Regions from separate parts of the Homo sapiens genome. Here region 2 is linked to region 1. Evidence: fine-mapped expression QTL. A gene starts in region 1. The other region holds a variant in brackets. All regions are shown on one strand. Distances are between the middles of the regions. Region 1 holds the start of MORF4L1 (mortality factor 4 like 1). Region 2 has its middle 34 kb from the start of CTSH.

Region 1 (8,336 bases):
AAAAAAAAAAAAAAAAAAAAAATCAGCCGGGCGTGGTGATGTGCACCTTCAGTCCCAGCTACCAGCTACTCGGGAGGCTGAGACATGAGAATCGCTTGAACCCAGGAGCTGGAGGTCGCAGTGAGCAGAGATCACACCACTGCACTCCAGCCCGGATGGGAGAGCAAGACTCCGCCTCAAAAAAAAACCACTAAAATTTAAAATATTTTTTAAAACTATGTATTTTCAAGCCCCACCAAAGACCCATATTATTAGACTCTCCCAGAGCACGACCTATTAACTTTATTTTTAAATCAGTTCTATAATTCTTTTAAGTGGTCACTCTATAAAGAATCACTGCTAGAGGCTGCTGGACCTACGAATAGCATTTCTGAATTAAAGACGGAGACTGGAAAACGGGAAGATCAAAGACTTCTCCAACGGCCCAGGAACGAGAACTAAAATGGGTAAACTATACTGCTAATAAACAGCGAACAAGATCAGATCAGATCTGTGTTTCCTAATTTCACTCTCCTGGTACATTTTAAAGGCACTCTGAAAATGGCCTACCATTTTTCTCCCCTTGGCTGCTACTGCCGGAAAAAAAAGTGCACTGAAACCGAGGCCCTGTGACCTCCATTCTAGCTACGAGGCCCTAGTATTTTGTTGAAAAAATATACAGCTAGCTGAGGAGTATGACCCAGGACAGCAAATGCTCCGTCTCAAAATCTAAACAAAACAAAACAAAAAAGAATTTCCAATGGAAAACCAAGTCCAGTGCAAAGCAATCACTATGCCTTAAGAATTGCTTATACAACATATATTGCACGCCATTATCAAATAAAAAAAAACTTTTTTATAAGTTTACGAGTTGTTTTTTTTTTAACAAGTTTACAAGAATCATTAAAAACCCTATTTCTCGGCCGGGCGCGGTGGCTCGCACCTGTAATCCCAGAACTTTGCGACGGCGAAGTAGGCGGATCACGAGGTCAGGAGATCGAGACCATCCTGGCCAACATGGTGAAACCCCGTCTCTACTAAAAATACAAAAATTAGCTGGGCGTGGTGGCGCGTGCCTATAATCCCAGCTACTCAGGAGGCTGAGGCAGGTGAATCGCTTGAACCCAGGAGGCGGAGGCTGCAGTGACCCGAGATCGCGCCACTGGACTCCAGCCTGGGCGACAGAGCAAGACTGTCTCAAAAAGAAAAAAACAAAACAAAACAAAAAAACACTACTTCTCGCCACTCTTTTCTCTACCATTACATAAACTCTACAGTGTTTCAAGACGATTCTGTTAGCACTCATCAAATATTCTTTTTCCCTTGCAAGATATTCTCCGATCATCTAATTAATAAATTTTTTTTTTTTTTGAAATGGAGTCTCACTCTGTGGCCCAGGCTGGAGTGCGATGGCAGGATCTCGGCCTACTGCAACCTCCGACTCCCGGGTTCAAGCGATTTCCTGTCTCAGCCGCCCGAGTAGCCGGGATTACAGGAGCCTAACACCACGCCCTGCTAATTTTTGTATTTTTAGTAGAGACTGGGTTTCACCAGGCTCACCAGGCTGACCAGGCTGGTCTCGAACCGCTGACCTCAGGTGATCCACCGCCCCCACCCACCTCGGCCTCCCAAAGTGCTGGGATTAGAGGCGTGAGCCACCGTGCCCCACCCACTAAAATCATTTTTAAAACGTGGTTACACAATTCCATTTTAAACACAAGTACAAAACACACCTGGAAAGTAATGTTAAATACAGACTCTCTTACACAGCTTTCAAACCCTTACCTGGGGATACCTTGGTTCCTACTCTTCTCCAATTACCCCACTTAAAACGGCACAAGGAAATCTCTGCTGCTACTCCTCTCTTAACTAGCAACCCTCTAGAACTAAAGCGCTTCTTCCAGAACAGCCATCCTTAGGTTGTTCCCACAGCAGCGATTAACTTTTTGTGCCTTGACAGTCTGATAAACCCTACGAGCCTAATAGTTTCATAAATACATAAAACACACACTAGTACAAAGGAAACCAACTGTACTGAAACAAAACACTTTAAATGTCACGTTCTATGACATTACAGGACAAACAAGACTTGGCTGCTAATACAATAACTACCCTAATTTTGAAGAAATAAGAATGCGATAACTGAAAACATCTTCCATAACTGTAATGTTGAGATATGAAAATATACTGAAAATGCTAATGTGGTGGTTTTTTTCGGGGTTTAGGGGGAGCAATTACACTGTTAATTGAAATACTAAACTTGGGAGATAGAAAAAAAAATCTTCCTCAATTTCACGCACCGTCTCAATTAATGCACTGACTCTAGATTAAGAATATCTGCTCTAAAATGTCTAGTAAAATAATGAACCCATAGGAGGTAGAGTCAACAGCTTCTCAAGGTGAGAGAGGGGTATTAAAAGTCACACGGCCGAGAGCGATGCCTCACGCCCGTTAACCCCCCACAACTTTGGGAGGCCGAGGCGGGTGGATCGCTCAAGCCCAGGAGTTCGAGACCAGCCTGGGCAACATGAAACCCCGTCTCTACCAAAAATACAAAAAAAAAAAAAAAAAAAGAAAGAAAAAGAAAAGAAAAAACAAAAACCCTAAAAAACAAAACAGAACAAAACAAAACTTAGCCGGACGTGATGGCGCGCGTCTGTGATCCCAGCTACTTGGGAGGCTCGCTTTAGCCCGGGTGGGGGGCAGAGGTGAGCCGAGATAGCGTCACTGCACTACAGCCTGGGTGACAAACATCGTCTCAAAAATACAAACAAAAAAAGTCACTCATTAACAAAATACCCCTAAAACCTCCTTAAATATTCCATAAACTTAAAATACGCAGTACTACGGTTTGAGGTTTACGGCTCTAAAAGGAATTCTAATGCAAGTCTAAAAACCCCTAGAACAAAAATCGTACGCATGTAGACATCGTATTTACGGTAACTAGCATAAATTTCCATAGCAATGAAAAGGAATGTTAAAGTGTTCCTCCTTTCTCAACAGGACTTTACTTCCTTTTTAGCTATTAGACCTCCACCTTATTATACGTTAACTGAAGCGTTGTGAAAATTTAAAGAGCTGCCTTCCACTGGGAGTCAGTCTAACCTTACCCAAAACTCATGTCAATCGAAAACCAATTAATAAAAAGAAATTCAACTTTCAAGTCATTGTTAAACACTGCAACTAATCAAACAATTACTGCATTTAAAAAATGACGTCGAGGCAATGGGACTTACAAATGCAAACGGCGTCAACACTGCATTCAGATCATTTTTATTTACTTTTTACGAGCAACTGCAAAGCGAGAGCTCACTCACATTACCATAGGATCTCGGCACTGCGCCCAAGAATAGCAGAGTGATGCCTCCAGGCAACACAAAGCGGAGGAAAACGCTCATCTCACTTTTTTTTTTCTGTCCCCACCCACCACTCTGTGGTATGCGGAGGGCCCCGGCAACCTTCTGGTCGTCGTGGAAGGGGGCGCTGCATCTGCCCGTAAGCTGTGCCTCCATACGGGACCGAGACGCCGGCGGCCATGATGGCGCCGCCATCTTGCAACGGCCATTTTACAACGCACTTCTCCCGCCCCGTGGCGCCAAACCCACCCCCATCCGCAGCTGAGTTGCCACCGAACGCAACCACCCCGGGGCTCCAGGAAGCACCGAAAAACCCGTCGTAGCTGCCCAAGCGGCCGGGCGCGCCGCAGGACCGCCCGAAACAGCCACCGCCCCTCCCCCCCCGCCGCCACATCACTTCCCCTAACCGCCGCCATGGCGCTCCCGTCGCCTCCCTACAATAGGCTGCTCTCTCCGCGCCCTCTTCCTCAGAACAATAACAAACACTTGACGAGGGTGTGCCACGCGCCAAACGCTCTCTCTCCCACTCTAACGCCTGCGCAGCACTCTCGCTTCACAAAGCGCTTTCTCACAATGACGCACCGGAATTGCCATCCGCAATGCGCTTTCCCCGCACAAAGCACTGACCGCCGCCTTCTCAGGGCGCAGCCCGCGCCGCCCCCGGCCCTCAAGCCTCAATCACCTCGAGCCCGCCTCTATCTCCTGCGCCGTTAGGTGCCTTTTTCCCAAAGGCGCACACTCACCCTCCTGGAATTTAGGCTTCGGGTCCTGCTTCGGCGCCATTTATAAGTGATTCGCCGCCTCCTCCTTCTCCCACCACCCCCGACTACCGCCCCCTACTCTCTACCCCACCCAACTCCGCGTCAGACGCGCCGTCAGGCACTGCCAGCTCTACATCCTGGGCCGGATTTGCCAGCGCCCGCAGACCTCACAGCACCGCGACCCGCGCAGCCGCTGCTCCAGCCAACGACAGCCCGCCGCGCACGCGCCCCTGCGCCCGCGCCGCCCCAGGGCACGCCGGGACTGGTAGTTCGGAGTCGGTGGAGGCGCCCCCCCCCCCCCCCCGGGTGGGGGAGGGGCCGGCTACCCTACCCCACCCCACCCCCGCTTCTCTCTCCATGCCCCCGGCTGCTGCGGGTTGGTAAAGCGGGGATTTGATTTCGTGGGAGGTTAAGGCGGAGCTGGCGATGGGGGAGAGTGGGGGTGGTGAGCCACCAGTGATAATAGAATGGGAAAGGCCCAGTTGCGACGTCCCTTGGGCAAATAAGCCCCCGTTGATGTTGAAGTAGTCGGAGAGAATAGGGCTGGCTCGGAAACCTACATTCAATAGCATTCCGCTAGTTTTTGCATAGAAAGGCTTTAGGATCAGCAAGAGGGTGGGAACTGGGGTCCGCTTCTGGAAGCTTCGTTGTTTAGCAACCCCACTGCGGAGCCTATTTGGTGGGATTGATAGCCATTTGTTGGCTCCTAGGTCTACCTCCTCTTCTCCAGCCCAGCCTTGCGGAAATGAGGATGATGACGTGGGAAACACTAGTCACGCTTTAGCTTTTTGAGATAATGGAGCTCTGCTTTCTGAAAAAGGCTAGTGTGAATATGTCAACGTCTGTATTCCGTACCTGCCCTGTTTGTGCTTCTTGTCACTCTAAACAAACGGATTTCTTCAATATTATACCTTTTTTTTTTTTTCTGAGATGGAGTGTCGCTCCGTTGCCCAGACTGGAGTGCAGTGGCGCGATCTCTGCTTACTGCAGCCTTCGCCTCCCAGGTTCAATCGATTCTCCTGCCTCAGCCTCCGGAGTAGCTGGGATTACAGGCATGTGCCACCACGCCCAGCTAATTTTTGTATTTTTAGTAGATACTGGGTTTCACCATGTTGGCCAGGCTGGTCTGGAACTCCTGACCTCGTGATCCGCCCGGTTTGGCCTTCCAAAGTTCTGGGATTACAGGCGTGAGCCACCGTGCCTGGCCTAAACAAACGGATTTATGTCGTTCCCTGTTCAAAAACAACTTTGTTGGCTAAGCTGCAAAATAGCACCATTTCCGTCAGTTTATTGTGAGAATTACATATACGGGCTTAGCGCGGTACCCAACAATGAATAAGTGCTCAATGAACTTTAGACGATAAATCTCAAAGTCCTTAGCCTGGTATTTAAATCCTTCCACAAACAGCCCTTAGCCTACCTGCATCCCCTATGTAAACCTTTATCCTCCTACGCAAACCTTTGTCTCCATGACTTTTCTTTTTTTTTTTTTTCTTTCTGAGACGGAGTTTCCCTCTTATTAACCAGGCTGTAGTGCAAAGGCGCGATCTCAGCTCACTGCAACCTCTGCCTCCCAGGTTCAAGCGATTCTCCTGCCTCAGCCTCCCGAGTAGCTGGGATTACAGGCATGTGACACCACACCGGGCTAATTTTTGTGTTTTTGTAGAGATGGGGTTTCTTCATGTTAGTCAGGCTGGTCTTGAACTCCCGACCTTAGGTGACCCGCTGGCCTCGGCCTCCCAGAGTGCTGGGATTACAGGCGTGAGCCACTGCGCCCAGCCTGTCTCCATGGCTTTTCTAAGCCCTCCCCTGCCCGGGTTCCACACCCCACCAATTCCGGGCCCCTCTCCATTTATCTGACTTCCATTTCTCCTTCAGTCTTTTTAACACAACCCCTTCTCTGACAACAGAAACCCACAAAAACCTTCCTTATTCCAGTTGAATATACACCATCTTGTCACGACTACTTCTCGCAAGCTTGTCCAACCTGTCTTATTTTGTTGTTGTTTTGTTTTGTTTTGTTTAGGCTTTTAGCACCCTGAAGCCATGGTTTTTAGTTTCAGTCTCTAGTGATAAGTGGAAAAGGGGGATGAGGAAGGGGCTTTACTGGCCCAACCAGAAACAGAAACTAAGAACCCATGACTGTATTCACTCCCTTGGACACCATTGCTAAATTGTAAAAAGGGACAAGGGCTTCTTTGGACCCCACCCCACCAAAACTGTCCTGTACACTTTTAAATTTTTTATTGAATATAAAATACGTACTTTTTTTAAATTATTTTTTTGAGACAGTCTCGCTCCGTAGCCAGGCTGGAGTGCAGTGGCACAGTCTCAGCTCACTGCAACCTCTGCCTCTTGGGTTCAAGCGATTCCCCTGCCTCAGCCTCCTGAGTTGCTGGGACTCGGTGTGCCATCACGCCCAGCTACTTTTTTGTATCTTAGTGGAGATGGGGTTTCACCATGTTGGCCAGGATGGTCTCGATCTCCTGACCTTATGATCCTCCTGCCTTGGCCTACCAAAGTGCTGGGATTACAGGCATGAGCCACTGCGCCCAGCCAATTTTTTGTTGTTGTTGTTGTTATGAGACCAAGTCTCACTCTGTCACCCAGGCTAGAGTGCAGTGGTGCAGTCTCAGCTCACTGCAGCCTCCACCTCCTAGATTGAAGCGATTCTTCTGCCTCAGCCTCCCAAGTAGCTGGGTTTACAGGCGCATACCACTATGGCCGGCTAATTTTTGTATATTTAGTAGGGATGGGGTTTCACCATGTTGGCCAGGCTGTTCTCGAACTCCTGACCTCAGGTGATCCACCCGCCTCGGCCTCTCAAAGTGCTGGGATTACAGACGTGAGCCACTGCGCCCAGCCTGCACATACTTTTTTAATCCAAACGTTTAAAAATACAAAAATGAAAATAGTGGGCCGGGCGCGGTGGCTCACGCCTGTAATCCCAGCACTTTGGGAAGCCAAGGCAGGCGGATCACGAGGTCAGGAGATCAAGACCATCCTGGCTAACACGGTGAAACTCCATCTCTACTAAAAATATAAAAAATTAGCTGGGCGTGGTGGTGGGCGCCTGTAGTCCCAGCTACTCAGGAGGCTGAGGCAGGAGCATGGCATGAACCCAAGAGGCGGAGCTTGCAGTAAGCCGAGATTACGCCACTGCACTCCAGCCTGGGCGACAGAGTGAGGCTCCATCTCAAAAAAAAAAAAAAAAAGAAAATAGTGAAAGTCTCTTTCCCACCTCCACCCCTCATCTGCCCAGTTCCCCCACTGTTATGAGTTGTTTGGGAATCCATGAGTTTTTTTATCCTAGAACCCTCTTTGTGTTATTTCTTCTTTTGTATTGAAGTTAACTTATTTGCCTTTATGTGTTAATTACACAGGTAATATTCAAATATTTGGGCTCATGATGCAACAATTGAGAAATATAAAATACAGGGCAAAACTTAAGGAACATGTTTATTCCCCGCTCCCCCCATTTACCTTCCCACCATTTGGCGTGTGCATTTTTCTCCATTTTTTTTTTTTAACCATAAATGGTCTGTACATATTGTTCAGTTGCATTCTTTTTTTTTTTTTTTTTTGAGACGGAGTCTCGCTCTTTCGCCAGGCTGGAGTGCAGTGGTGAGATCTCGGCTCACTGCAACCTCCGCCTCCCGGATTCCAGCGATTCTCCTGCCTCAGCCTCCTAAGTAGCTGGGATTACAGACGCCCGCCACCATGCCCGGCTAAGTTTTGTATTTTTAGTAGAGACAGGGTTTCACCAAGTTGGCCAGGATGGTCTCGATCTCTTGACCTTGTGATCCGCCCGCCTCAACCTCCCAAAGTGCTGGGATTACAGGCGTGAGCCACCACGCCCGGCCCAGTTGTATTCTTTTTTAACATAATAATATATCTTGGAGATTGTTCAAATTACATACAGGCCTATCTCACCTTTTTTTTTTTTTTTTTTTTGAAACAGCGTCTTGTTCTGTCTCCCAGGCTGGAGCACAGTGGCATGATCATGGCTCACTGCAGCTTGCAGCTCCTGGGTTCAAGTGATCCTCCTGCCTCAGCCTCCCCAGTAGCTGGGACTACAGGTGGATGCCACCACACCCAACTAATACTTTTATTTTTGCAGAGATGTGCTCTCGCTATGTTGACTGGGCTGGTTTCCAACTCGTAGCCTCAAGTAATCCTTCCACCTCTGCCTCCCAAAGTGGTGGGATTACAAACATGAGTCCCTCACATTTTCAATAGC
Region 2 (8,336 bases), 38 kb before region 1:
GACTTCCTTTAGTCCTCCCTCCTGGTCTATGAGGCAAGATAGTCCCATTTATAGAAGAGGAAGCTGAGGCTCAGTGAGATGATGTGGCTTGCCCATGGTTACAAGCCATAGGAGAGGAACCTGGGGTGGTCTGGGCCCTAGCCAGCACATGCTCCACCCAACCAGACGCCTGTGACAAGGGCTGGATTCCTCAGTACGGGAACCTTCTCTTTGGTACAATTGCTGGTGGCCTCTGGGAGTGATTCAGGGGCGTGTGCAAAAATGTCCACTCCTGCAGAGCCGGGTGCAAGTTGATTTGCCCCCTTTTGTGAATTCAGCCACTACTGGAGGGCACAGAAGCTACCCTGCTGGGGACCAGGCTGAAGAACTTCAGCAGTCCTAAGATCTGGGAAGATTAAGCCCCTTCTCCTACTTAGATATATGTGTGTGAATAAAATGTAGAATAAATGTATATTGCTTGAAATGTCACAAATGGGCCAGGCATGGTGGCTCATGCCTGTAATCCCAGCACTTTGGGAGGCCGAGGCAGGTGAATCACCTGAGGTTGGGAGTTCGAGACCAGCCTGAGCAACATGGAGAAACCCCGTCTCTACTACAAATACAAAATTAGCCGGGCATGGTGGCGCATGCCTGTAGTCCCAGCTACTTGGGAGGCTGAGGCTGGAGAATCGCTTGAACCCGGGAGGTGGAGTTTGCGGTGAGTCGAGATCTCACCATTGCACTCCAGCTTAGGCAACAAGAGCAAAACTCCATCTCAAAAAAAAAAGAGAAAAAAAAGAAATGCCACAAATGTACATGCATGCAAAAATTAATAGCTTCCTTCTAGGTTGTCAAATTCTAGCTAAGATCACTGAAGAAGAATTTAGGCTGGGAGTAGCCTTGTTCTGGGTGTGTGGTGACCAACCAGCCCGATTTGCCTGGGACTGAGAGTACTTCTGGGACCTGGAACTTTTAGTGCTATTAAAACTGCAAAAAACCTCAGGAACATGGCCAGGCAGGGCTGGCTCCAAGGGCATATGACCAGTGAAGTCATACAGCACTGGGGTTTTAATGCTCTGCCGTCATCATCTTAACATGCATAATTATTTTCTCTTTGAACATGTGTTTTTGTAAGTGAGTCCAAGGGGACAACTGGAGCACATGCCAGGGGGCGTGGAGCCTTGGCTGACACGTGTTACCACCTCCCACCACCTTCCTGCCTCTCTTGGCCAGTTTCTGAGCCACTCACTTCTCTAACACATGGCAGAAGCCTGAATGAGAGATCGGGAGGATTTGGAGCCAGGCACGCACGCTTCATAGCAGCTCAGGATGGGGCATGGTGGTGGCTACCCCTGACCCAGGCTGGCAGCTCTATGGCACGCCAGGTTCAGTGGGAGTGAACCTCTCACCCGCCCGATCGAGATATAAAACACGTTCCAGCACAGAGGCTGCAATCCCTGTGGGCCACCTGTCTGCATGAGTAGGAACAGCAGGTCCATGGAAGGGGGAGACTGACTTCCTGCCCCGGCTAGGTCCAGGTATTTGTTTGGAGGCTGATGGGCCATGTGTACATGGAGTTGCACAGCAGGACCCCAGATGCCTATGACAGCCTGTACCTGCCAGGCAATTCTCCCTATGTCCAAGGGAGTACAATATTAAATAACACATGGAAAACACTATGAGAGGTCAAGAGAGAGGCCACAGGAGAAAAGAAAATATGTTGTATTTTCTCATACCTTTAATGGCACTGGTTTCCTGCTTTGTTTTTTGTTTTTTTGAGACAGAGTCTTGCTCTGTTGCCCAAGCTGCAGTGCAGTAGCGTGATCTCAGCTCACTGCAACCTCCACCTTCCAGGTTCAAGTGATTCTTATGCCTCAGCCTCCCCAGTAGCGGGGATTACAGACGCACACCATCATGCCTGGCTAATTTCTGTATTTTTAGTAGAGACGGAGTTTTGCCACATTGGCCAGGCTGGTCTTCAACACCCACCTCAGCCTCCCAAAGTGCTGGGATTACAGGCATGAGCCACTGTGCCCAGCCTGGTTTCCTGCTTTTTGAACAAGGGGCCCCGCATTTTCACTTTGATGCAGCCAGCTGTACCAACAGAAAGTGGTCACCCTATTTGGGTCCACCTGCCTTGTGCTCTGGTGTACATAAAGCCTTCATCTGCTCTTGGGGTCACTAGCCCTGCTCTTGGTGGCCACCTGTGCCAGACCCCTCATCCAGAACATGTGCTAGGTGGAGGCCCAGAAACTGATTCAGGAATCCTCACTGGCTTCCAGAGCAGAAGGCATTCACAGCTCCAGCAGGAGCCATGCCATCATTCGTGGGAATTAATCATCACCCGAACACAAAGAAGGTACAAAATGGTGGTGGCCTCTGGTTGCCTGGGTTCAAATTCCAGCTCAGCCATTCACTTTATCACCATGAGCAAAAATCAATAAAAACCTACTCCAGTGTCCTTGCTGTATTATGCTGGACTATGCTATTTCACATTTATTACTTCCAGCCCTTACAATGACCTATAAGGTAGGATTTATTAATATCCTCATTTTACAGGTGGGAGAATGATTCACTTTCCCAAGGCCCTACAACTAACGCAAGAGAGCTGGGATTCAAACCCAGGTCTAACTCCTAAAATCTTTACTGCTCTTCCTCCTTACTTCCCAACTCCTGCTGTGAGCCTCAAAAATGGAGGTGAGACTAACACCTTCCTCACAGGATTACAGCATCTACTTGACATAATGGGTGTATGACCTGAAATTTTAAGGTCAAAGTATTTTTTAGAGATGTAGCATTGTTCTAAGGCTTCCAAATAAACAGATCATTACGTTTCCCACGGTAGAGTGACATTAGGATAAAACCCCAGCTCACAAGCACCACTACAATGAACCAGGAAGACCCCACCGTCAGCAATAAACCAGTCTCCATTACATGTAATTACACAAAAAACCAAGAGGCCAAATTCAAGTCATTCGTTATGAAATGCTTTTTTCTTTACAAAGTAAACATGCATATTGACTCTTATGGGTACACATATATTCTTCATTACAGAAACTCACTGAACTAATGAATGAAATCAGCAATCTTACTCTTAACTTCCTGTTACAACACAACTCCTGAGGTTTTTCCCCTAGCAACATCAAGAAATGCCAAGCTCATCTCAAAAGTTAAGCTGAATGGAAGGTTTACCTGGTTCCCACCAGCAGTCACTTAATTCAGTTACGGGTTTTGAACTCAGGATGAAATATAAACTTTTTTAAACAGACAATCATTATACATGTTTATGGGGTACAATGTGATGTTTCGATATATGTACGCATTGCAGAAAGATTAATCAAACTTACATATCCAACACCTCACCTACTTACCCTTTTTTGTGGTGAAAATGTTTAAAATCTAGTCTTCTGGCTATTTTGAAATGTATGGTCACCATACTGTGCAACAGATCTCTAAAATGTCTGAAACCAACATCTTTGACCAATATCTCCCTTTCCCTATATCTCCCCCTCCGACCTCTGCTAATCAACATTCTACTCTCTGCTTCTATGAGTTCAACTTTTTAAAATTCCACGTATAAGTGAAGATCATGCGGTACTTGTTTTCTGTGTCTGGCTTATTTCACTTAGCATAAAATCCTTCAGGTTCATCCCTGTTATCACAATGGCAGGATTTCCTTTTTAAAGGTTGTATAGCATTCCACTGTGTATATATACATTTTCTTTAGTAATTGTTCCTAGCATCCAAACAGCACTCAGAGTTTAGGTAAACACAAGAGTTTCAGCATGAGGCTGTATTAGCCTGGACTGACTTGGAGAGCGGGGCCAAAGGCAACTTGCATGAAGGACCACAGGGCCTCCTGGGAAACAGCAACCATGGGGGACAGAGGAGGAAGCATCCCACCAGCTGGTTAAGAATACTGAATCAGGGCTGCAGCCCTTGTGGTGACCCCGCCCAAGGGCACTCCTGGCCTGCCAAGCCCAAAGCCCCTGCGCCAGAAACCTAAGGAGAAGATGGTAAAACTGACAGAGTAGGCCAGGTACGGTGACTCACGCCTGTAATCCCAGCACTTTGCGAGGCCGAGGTGGGCAGATCACAAGGTCAGGAGTTCAAGACCAGCCTGAACAACATGGTGAAACCCCATCTCTACAAAAATACAAAAATTAGCCAGGCATGATGACGGGTACCAGTAATCCCAGCTACTCAGGAGGCTGAGACGAGAGAATTGCTTGAACCAGGGAGGCGGAGGTTGCAGTGAGCTGAGATTGCACCACTGCACTCCAGCCTGGGTGACAGAGTGAGACTCCGTCTCAAAAAAGAAAACTGACAGAGCAATTTCCCCTATGCTCCTGAGGGACTCTGAGAGCCTACAGAGATGCTGGTCTTTTGACTTCTATCAAAGGGCAAGAGAGAAGCCCTTCCTTCTTGCGAGTGAAGCAGGTTAATCAGCTCAGCTCAAACACTGGTGTTTTCTTGGTTTAACAGACACTTTTTAT[T/G]GGCCAGGCACTGCACTAAGAAATATACAGCACACTAACTCCCCACAGCAACCCTGTGAGGTAGATACTATCATGATCCCCACTTTCACATGAGGAAGCCGAGGCACAGATTGGTTAAGCAACTTGCCCCAAACCACAAAATTGCTTAGTGGCAGAATCAGGGTTTATACCCGAGCCCTCCAGCTCCAGAGTATCTGTTCTCAGCCTCCCTCTCTGCTGCCTCTCCAAAGAGGATGCAGAGTCCTTAGGATTCTTAAAAAGTCTGAAAGTGATTCAAAATGACTATGCTGTGAGGAGACCTGGCCCTGCCCGCCAGGCCCAGGGTGGTAACTGAGCTCCATCTACGTAACTCCATCTACGGCACTGCCCCATCTAAGGCCTGGTGGGTTCCCTCCTCCTGTCCACCTTGGTAAACAAGTCCTTTATCAAGCTCCCCTCACAGTACCCAGTAGACTGTGTTCTTTCTCAGGGAGCCTAGCCGATACAAGGGAGTAGCTGAAAGGTAATATTATGGGATGCTTTTTAAAAAATAGTTCTTGGCATATTTTTAAAACATTTTAAGGGAATTATGCAAATGTAGAGTGATAGAGTAAGTCTAGGCTAGAGACAGAGAACAGATTTTCATTATTATGGGAAAAATCATGTGACCAACTTCCCGTGGTTATGTGAATGTAAAGTCAGTGTGTGTTGTTCTAGGGGAATGCTATACACAAGATCTCCGGTTTGCTGTTTGTAGTTCAGCAAAGACGATCTCTCTCGGGATTCCAGGGTGCAAGGTGGACCAATTTGCACAGGAACCCAGAGATGAAATTGGGGACAGCCATTCGGGTGGTCTGGGATGCGCTGAAGCAGGCTCACGGCAGGAAAAGATCTTAAGGGGACTCCCTCAGAAGGGAGGGGAGGAGAGGAGGCTGGCCCCAGTTCAGGATCTAAAATTTCACAGAGGCCAGGTTCGCACAGTGGGTAGGCTGAGTGAAGCTGCTGCAGGATTGGAAACTCTGGTGGGTGTCCTACTGTGAGGGATGATGGCTGAACATGAGGTGGCCAAGAGAGGAGCAGCTTTAGGGCACTGGAGTAGGATGCCACCTCGGCCCTGTGAAGGTGGGCGGAATGGGCTGAGCCCATGGATTGTGGGGAAACCCTTACAACAGCGACACCTTATGGCCACTATGGTAACATAATGCGCACATCTAATTTTCTGGTCTCCCAGTATGGCTTCAGAAAGACTGGAATTCTTGGATAATGAAGAGAAGGGTGATCAAGGGGGAAGGATGAGATTCTCTGCCTATGGAAGTAAAGGCTTGCACAATCCTCTGGAAAAGTAAAAGTGCAAGAATGTGTCCCAAGTGGACACAGGTTGTACCAGGAACCTCCAGGGTCCCAGATCAGTCCACCCAGAGTGAGTCCTTGTGTCTCCGGCTCTGGGGTCAGAAAGGGCAGGTTGACTTAGTTCCTGAAGGAAACCATGTAGCCCTCACATATGTCACAAGCATAGAGGAAACGTGCTACCTTTATTGCTCAGGTTCACCAGGGAGCTTTGCAATGCTGAGACCATTCCTAGGCCCAGGACAATCTGCCATTAGCTCTGCCCATGGTAACTTTATGCCACAGAGCACCAGGTCAAGGACATACCAAACTTCCCTCTTCACACACAAACACACAAACACGCACACACTCAGAGGTTTGTCTAAACTTAATCACCCCTAGACACACCACCAGCAACCACCCAAACCCCTCCCCAGGACTGGAAGCATATCCCAGGCTCAGCTGCCCTTCTCTCTCTCCCCCAAGGCTGCATCACAAACGCACATGCTTCTGTTCTTCTGAAACCAACCATTCATCTCACATTTCTTCTTCCTCATTTTCAATTCTGATTTTCTTAATTGTTTCCAATATTCTAAATGTCAAGAAATAAATAAGTGTAAAGACTACTGCATGGTGGCTTGCACCTGTAGTGCCAGCTACTCAGGAGGCTGAGGCAGGAGAATGGTGTGAACCCAGGAGGCAGAGCTTGCAGTGAGCCGAGATTGCACCACTGCACTCCAGCCTGGGCGACAGAGTGAGACTCTGTCCCAAAAAAAAAAAAAAAAAAAAACCAGTACTTTCAACCACAGCCCTTAACTAGCCTGGCAGCTTCCATTTCTTATCTCTTTGAACCCTCACTATTGGAGTCCTGAGATACCATGTAATTTTGGAGTCCTGAGATACCAGCCTGAGGCTGGCAAGTCACAGTATGAGATGTGCAAACCATGCAGAGAAGCCCTCAGTGGTTGAGATGCTGTGTCGAGGAAAGAGGGGCCAAGGAACACAGAGGTACGAGATACATGAGTGAAGAAGCCATCTTGGAAGCAGATCCTCCACAATTTCAGCCACGGCAGCTAACGCCAAATGGATCAAAGATGAACTGCCCAACCAAGCCTATCCTGAATTCATGATTCAGAAAGGTATGAGCAAAACAAAATGGTTGTTTTAAGCTATAAAGTTCTGGGACAGTTTGTTAGCGCAGCAAAAGACAGCCAGAAATCAAATCTCATGTAAAGCTTTTCAAAAAAATCAAAACAATATAACCACAATTGTGTTTTAAAATAAAATGGTAATCCCAGCACTTTGGGAGGCGAAGGCAGGCGGATCACTTGAGGTCAGGAGTTCAAGACCAGCCTGGCCAACATGGTGAAACCCCGTCTCTACTAAAAATACAAAAAAATTAGCTGGGTTATGGTGGCACACACCTGTAATCCCCGCTACTCGGGAGGCTGAGGCAAGAGAATTGCTTGAACATGAGAGGTGGAGGTTGTGGTGAGCCAAGACTGCACTGCACTCCAGCTTGGACAAAAAAGCGAGACTCCGTCTCAAAAAAAAATTTTTTTTTAAATTAAAACAAATAAATAAAATGGTGCTTCTGCCTGGTCCTTTGGAAAAGCCTGCCCCAGTAAAACAAGATTTGGCCATTTGCCTTTTTGTAATCCTTCCTCCATCTGGAAGAAATATAGAAATGTGATAACTATAACAAGGAGATACTGCTACCTCTCAGCTTGGGCAATTCCGAAACCCCCAAGAGGTGATTTATATGTGTTACAAGGAGCAAAGGAGGAGAATGAAGGCAAAACTGTTCTGGGTGCTGGAACCTCTGAGGCCACTTCTGAGCATCCCCCCTCTACCCCCAAAATAGAGACTGGACCCAACAGCTGCTGTCAGGCAGCTAACAGAACAGCAAGCCACCAGGAAGGAGGAAGACCCTTCCCCCGCACCACCCCCCACCCCCGGCCCCCGACCCTTGCCTTCCAGTGTCCCTCTAATGCCCTCTACTGGCAGAACCTAACAAGAAGCCAGCTGACAAATAATTTAGGGTCCCAGCCACAGGATCACAGAGCAGGATTTAGAGCTGAGATCCAGTAACTTCATAACCAACTCAGTCCTCCCCTTAGGATGCTAGGCATCCATATACACCCTTCCACACATATTTTAATCACCACATAACACCACCACTTCATGCTGTGGCCTAGTAAGATACAATATCCTTCATACAAAGGTAGACACTCTCATCCTCTTCACCAGTGTCAACAGTCTGTATCCCTCCCTGTGCAATGTTAATTACTTTTCTAATTCAAATGTAATCCCATCTGATTATTCTATAACATGAAAAAAGGCACAAAGCTGTTATAGTCCTTGTCTTCATCTTGTCTTCATAACTGGTCGTTAAGACCCTATGTAGTTGATATTTCTTCCTCTTCCTGCCTGTTCCATGTTTCCTTTGCTCTCAGCCAGCACCTCAGCTGTTTTTGGTTTTGGTCTTGTTTTGTCACCAGATAGGGTGACTTCAAAACTCATTCCTAAAAGAATGTGAAACCTCAGTGGTCTTGT

What was found. PIP is the estimated chance that this variant, and not a neighbour inherited with it, causes the effect.
Region 2: its variant is fine-mapped to the expression of MORF4L1 in whole blood (TOPMed, PIP 0.98).

The regions. Positions count from the first base shown.
Region 1 is chr15:78,868,800-78,877,135 of GRCh38, reverse strand. MORF4L1 (mortality factor 4 like 1) reads right to left here and starts at 4,246. Exons shown (of 12, transcript NM_006791.4): 1 at 4,079-4,246. The coding sequence starts at 4,118. RefSeq lists enhancers at 568-1,169, 3,395-3,634, 3,028-3,659 and silencers at 2,634-2,743, 3,745-3,804, 4,215-4,474.
Region 2 is chr15:78,907,267-78,915,602 of GRCh38, reverse strand. No RefSeq gene overlaps it. Among named protein-coding and RNA genes, the nearest start is that of CTSH, 34 kb to the left of the region's middle. The variant T/G (reference allele first, on the strand shown) is at 4,476.